Linked DNA regions of Homo sapiens: region 2 is linked to region 1. The links come from fine-mapping of genetic effects on gene expression. A gene starts in region 1. The other region holds a variant in brackets. All regions are shown on one strand. Distances are between the middles of the regions. Region 1 holds the start of TTC28-AS1 (TTC28 antisense RNA 1). Region 2 overlaps TTC28 (tetratricopeptide repeat domain 28).

What was found. PIP is the estimated chance that this variant, and not a neighbour inherited with it, causes the effect.
Region 2: its variant is fine-mapped to the expression of TTC28-AS1 in unexposed skin (GTEx, PIP 0.93).

What each region holds. Positions count from the first base shown.
Region 1 is chr22:27,918,249-27,920,748 of GRCh38, reverse strand. TTC28-AS1 (TTC28 antisense RNA 1) reads right to left here and starts at 1,373. Exons shown (of 5, transcript NR_026963.1): 1 at 1,204-1,373. It overlaps PITPNB (phosphatidylinositol transfer protein beta), which reads left to right and starts at 1,493. Exons shown (of 12, transcript NM_012399.5): 1 at 1,493-1,577. The coding sequence starts at 1,558. MIR3199-1 (microRNA 3199-1) reads left to right here and starts at 137; the gene lies at 137-224. It overlaps MIR3199-2 (microRNA 3199-2), which reads right to left and starts at 223; the gene lies at 138-223. RefSeq lists enhancers at 973-1,152, 323-1,307, 1,308-2,293 and silencers at 1,463-1,532, 1,723-2,042.
Region 2 is chr22:27,975,748-27,978,675 of GRCh38, reverse strand. TTC28 (tetratricopeptide repeat domain 28) reads left to right here. Exons shown (of 23, transcript NM_001145418.2): 23 at 1-662. The region is part of intron 2 of TTC28-AS1 (TTC28 antisense RNA 1); the gene reads right to left. Among named protein-coding and RNA genes, the nearest start is that of MIR3199-1, 57 kb to the right of the region's middle. The variant CA/A (reference allele first, on the strand shown) is at 1,095.

The sequences.
Region 1 (2,500 bases):
CAGTACTTGGCATAAAATCCAATGTCCAATCAACAAAGCGGATTCTAAGCTTCTCAACTCTTGCAAGAAAGAGCGTGTATTTCCTTAAATCTCTGCCCTCACAATAACTAGCACTAGTCACACATAAGAGAAACTCGGTGACTCCAGGGACTGCCTTAGGAGAAAGTTTCTGGAAGTTCTGACATTCCAGAAACTTTCTCCTAAGGCAGTCCCTGGGAGTCACTGAGTCAGTCCATTTCCGTTATTTTTTTGGAGGCAGCCCTAACTCCACAGATGTATTCCACTATCAGATACACCAGATGTTTATACAAAAATGTTTTCGTGATATTTTAATCGTCTTAATAGCCTTTCAACAGGTTCTCATGGTTCTTAGAAGACAAATTCTTTACTATGGCCTAGTAATCCAGTTGGTCCCAGCTCATTTCCCACCCTCACTTAGGATGTTCTGGCCACATCTGCCCTCTAGCTGATCCTTGAACACCCTAGGCTTACTCCATCCTCGGGTCATATTTCCCTCCAACTGGAATGCCCCTCTCACATCCTAACAGGCTAGGCTCAAACACCGCCTCCTAAGACAGCCCTTGTCTTGAGTCCTCTGCTTCTCCCAGTACTCCACTGTATTCATAGCATAGCACTTCCCCACCACCCCAAATTCTCCCTGCTTTCTTTCCAAGTGAGTTGTCTCCTCTAGACTGTGAGCTTCTTGAGAACAGGGACTGTGTCTGCTTCTAGATGCATCCCCACTGCCTAGAACCGTGTCTGACACAGAGCAAGCCAGCGACCTCCGGGCTGCGGCTTTGAGGCCCACGGCGCTTTCGGTGTAACTGCGCGAACCAACTCCTGAACAGCCCGCTTTCCTGGGTCTCGAGGCCAAGGGCCTCTTTTCTCCCAGAGGGCCTCCGTCGGGAGTGCTGGCCGCTCATCCTGCCGAGTCACAGGTGAGGTTTAGGATTCTCCGCCGCGGTGGACCTCCACGAGACCGCGAAGCAGGTGAACGTCCTCCCGCGGAACCTGAGCTGCCAAGGGCTGGGGAGGGGAACAGAAGCTGGCGTCGGCTGCCTCCAGAACCTGTCAGGAGTCTTTTATGTGGACTATGGAGGTGAGGTGTCGGTCAAGGAGGTGGGCCCTGACTCGGAGCAGTGAGAGAGAGCAGAAAACCAGTCACCGCAAAACGGCTTCCAAAGAACCAACTGGAAAACTCACCGGAAAGCGTAGGCTGCCCAGACGCCCCGAGGGACCAAAGCTGAAGGGAGGAGCCCTCGTAAGCAGACAAGAGTGCGCGCGTCGAGCTTGCGCAGCCGCAGTAGAAGCCGCACGCTCTTCGGCAGGCTGCGCAACCGCAGTGGAGGCCTCGTGTGCCCGGGGTGGGGCACGAAACTGGGCGGAGCTAGGCCCCCTCGCGCGCTGACGCGACTGGTCGCGGCGGAAGGGTGTAAGCACGCAGGCGCGATGGTGGCTCGGGGGGGCAGGGAGGCGGGGCCGCGCAGGCGCTGTGAGAGGCGGTAGCGGCGGCGGCGGCGGTGGTATCGGCGGCAGCTGTGAGGGGGTTCCGGGAAGATGGTGCTGATCAAGGAATTGTGAGTGGGTCTGTGGGCGCGAGCGAGGCCGTGGGACGGCAGTGATGGGAGATTTGTTGATGGAGAAGTGGTAGGATATTCCTAAATCGGAGTCAGCCCTGTGTCAGCCCCTCCCTGCGGGCGCCCCCTCCCTCCCCCGGCCCCTTCGAAGCCCCTCAGCGAGTGCGCCCCTCGGCCCTCCAGGCATTGCCGTGGTAACACGCCCTCTCCCTTCCCCGGGGCGAAGGCGGCTGGGTCCCGGCCCGAGCGCATGGCTCGGGAAGGCGCGGCCGGGAGTTTCCGCTGGGACCCGCCTTCTCCCCAACCCCCCACCCCCAGGCTGGGTCTGGGCCCACCCCCAGGCCCGCCGGTGGGAAGGAGCCGCAGTCCGAGGGTGGGAGAGACACGTTGGTTCTGACTGTGATTTGTCGTCCGGGGTGGAGTCCCCTGGTAACCAGCGGGAGATGGGCTTGCCGGTTGAAGGCAGCCCTCGTGTCAGGACTCGCGGTGGGACGCTGGCGCCTTGAAGTTCGTGGTGGAGCCGGGATTCCGGAAAGCCTCCGCTCTCCTGGGCAGCTCCGCTGACTTGACGGGAGAGCCTTTTCTCTTTTTGGTTTCCGCATGTTTTAAGATGAGGTGACATCCCGGGCCCCACCTACTTTCTTAGAAGTTAACACGTGCTCTGTCAAATGGAGGGATTTCGAGGTGCATCCGACTGGCCAAGTGATTTTGTTGAAAAGTCACGGCTTTTCCTACTGGCAAGGACTGTAAACATTACGGAAATCTGCTTGCCTCTGAATGTTCGTCTGTCACAGCTGGTTCGTGTCGTCAGCATCCTTTGGGCAGCTAGGGAGGTCGAGTATGGCCCATTCGTTGGTTTTCAAATTCTTCATTTTAAATTCTTAGAAATATTTTTGGCTTAATTTAGCTTTTTTCAGACACCT
Region 2 (2,928 bases), 58 kb before region 1:
GAAAGTTTTCACCTCCATTCCATTTTTTAAAAATTCACGGTCCACACTGAAACTTGCTGGGTTTTAGCAGGAGACAAAGGTGTCACCCACGCTGTCCTCATCCTGCTCTCTCTGTCCCAGTGACGCTCCAGCATATGATCACTGCAGCCGGTCCCTGGCCCGTGCCGATTCTGCCACCTCCCAGCCACACACATTTGCAGACCCACAAGAAGAACTGTAGCCTTGATAATTTCAGTTCAGGCTGGAAAAATGCCATGCAATAATCTGGTTTGCTTTCAGTAAGTAGGCAACAAGTGAAAACTGTATAATTTTCATCACCTATTCTGCTGTTCTATCTAAAATGAGTGTACCTGTGGTTTGTGAACTGGGCCCTTGTTTGTGCCAGATCCTTCAAAGATGTTCCCTGTCAGGACACCTGTGGCCCTGCCCCTCCTCAGACACCTTCCCACTGGCATTCACGTTCCTTATATGCAGTGTTAGCCATCTTTGGCCTACGTGGACTTTTTTTGTAAATTACACCATTTCCAGACATTAAACTTTTTATATTATGAAATTTACCATGTAAAAAGAACTTCATATTTTTATTGAGATTGCTAAGGCACTTGGCCTTCCTCCTTTGTGATTTTCAGTGTCTATTAAAGCATGAGTTCCCTCAGTTTTAAGTGCTGTATCTGGATCACTTTCTCTACTCTTTCCACACTGTCTAGGTTTCTTTGCAGTACATGGAGTGGGCCGTGTGTCATTACTGAGCACGTATCTCTCTAGTTTTAACCCCACCTCTACACCATAGCCTCACATCCGCCAAGCAGAGAGCACGACCATGCATGCAGCAGAGCTGTCCCGCACGTCTCTGGTCTGGGGGCACTGTCGGTGGGGGGGTAATTTAGACGCTACTCATAGTTGGAGGGCCAGAAAGTTCGACAGTTGAATACGTATTTCGACAAACAGAAACAGAGTTCATCACCACCAGATCCCTATATCATCTAACAAAACTTCCAAGGTAGTATTTCAGAAAGAAGGAAGATAATTCTATATGCAAAAGTGTGAGAAGCATGAAGGAATAGTAAAGAATTGGGTAAATATGCATAAATGAA[CA/A]CAAATATTGCCTTTATAAAAAGAGTAATGTTTCATTCGGCTAACAAAAAATACTAGACAATAATATGTAAAACATGGGAGTTAAAGTGCTATAAGTTTAGGAACAAATTGTATATTATTTTTAGAGTAAGTTAAATATATGTAGTTACACACACACACATTGAAGTAGAGGGTTATACTTCCAAACTAGTCAGTGGAAGAGAAACAGATTCATTTTGTAAAACCCTGGTTGATGTAAAGGAATAGAAAAAGGAAGGAACAACAAAAACCATCTAAAAGGCAGGACAAATATAAGATGAAATTAATTGTACATTTTCAAATAACTAAAAGTATAATTGGATTGTTTGTAACACAAAGGATAAATGCTTGAGGGGATGGACACCCCATTCTCCATGATGTGATTATTACGAATTGCACGCCTGGATCAAAACATCTCACGTGCCCCATAAATATATACATCTACTATGTTCCCACAAAAATTAAAATTAAAAAATAAGACAAAAGAAAAATATCAGTAATCATTATAAATGTAAGTGAACTAAACAATTAAGCAGTAGATTAACAGATGATGGCAATAAGCCACATGCTCTTTAAAAGGCTATATGCTATTTGAAAAGAAAACCACCAAAGCATAAGGGCCCCCCCAAATGGCTGATAGTAAAAGGACTGGCAAACTAGATATTAAAGTAAGGGGCACTAATAAAAACAAAGATCCACTTCCTAATGATAAACTTGGCAAAAAGGCAAAATTCTAAATTTGTATGCAGCTAACTACATAGCCTCCAAATTCATGAAGAAAATTGGCAGAACTACAAGTTTGAAAAAACATCATCATGGGAAGTTTTAAGCCACTACTCTTTTGATAGATCAGCAGACGAAAAGTTAGAAAGCATGTGGTAGGTTTAAACAATTATGTGAACAGGCTTCTGAAATGCGGTTAAGGAGAACCCAGTCTCAGATAGTGAATCCACGGTCTTCACCTGCACACATGGAATATTTCATGAAAATAGACCATGCACAGGCCACATAGCAAGTCTCAGCAAATATCGAAGAATTACTACCACATAATCAGAGCACAATACAATTAAGTCAGGCAACAATAACAAGAGGATAACTAAAAAGTAGCCAATCACTTAGACATTTTAAAATGGACCACATAGCATATGACCCATGGAAGAACTCAAAATAGAAATGGGAAAATACAACATATCAAAACAGGTGGATGCCTCCAGATTTACCTTAGGAATATCTGAGTTTTTCTTTTATTAAGGACAGTGGTGTTTCTTATTTATTCTATACTCGCCTATAATTTGCAATTATCACTTTCACCCAATAAAATAAAATTACAATTATTTTCATTTCTGCTTACATGCTATTTTCAGAAAATGTATACATTATGTTATAAAGAAAATTAATAATTCCATAAAACTAGTGGAATACAACATATTAAAGAAAAATTTATAGCCCTAAATGTTTATATTCAAGGGTAATATTTATGTAACTGCAAGAGCCCCAAGCGACGAAGAAGGACACTGGTACTGTGAGACTGGAGTACTGAGGTATGTTAGGAAAAAACAAAAACTACTTACTGAGCTAGGTGACCAATTCAAGAAGTTAGAAAAAGAATAATATACCCAGAGAGAAAATAAAAGAGGGAATAAGAAAGGTCAGAAATAAAAGAAGACAATATAGAAGGTTAAGAAGGGCAAAGTTTGCCAAAAAGACAAATACACTGATTTCTGGGAATGGTAATCGTGTGTGTGCATGTGTGTGGGCGTGCGTGTGTGTGAGTCAGAGAGGGAAAGGGAAGGAAAATAGGCTATCTAAAGACGC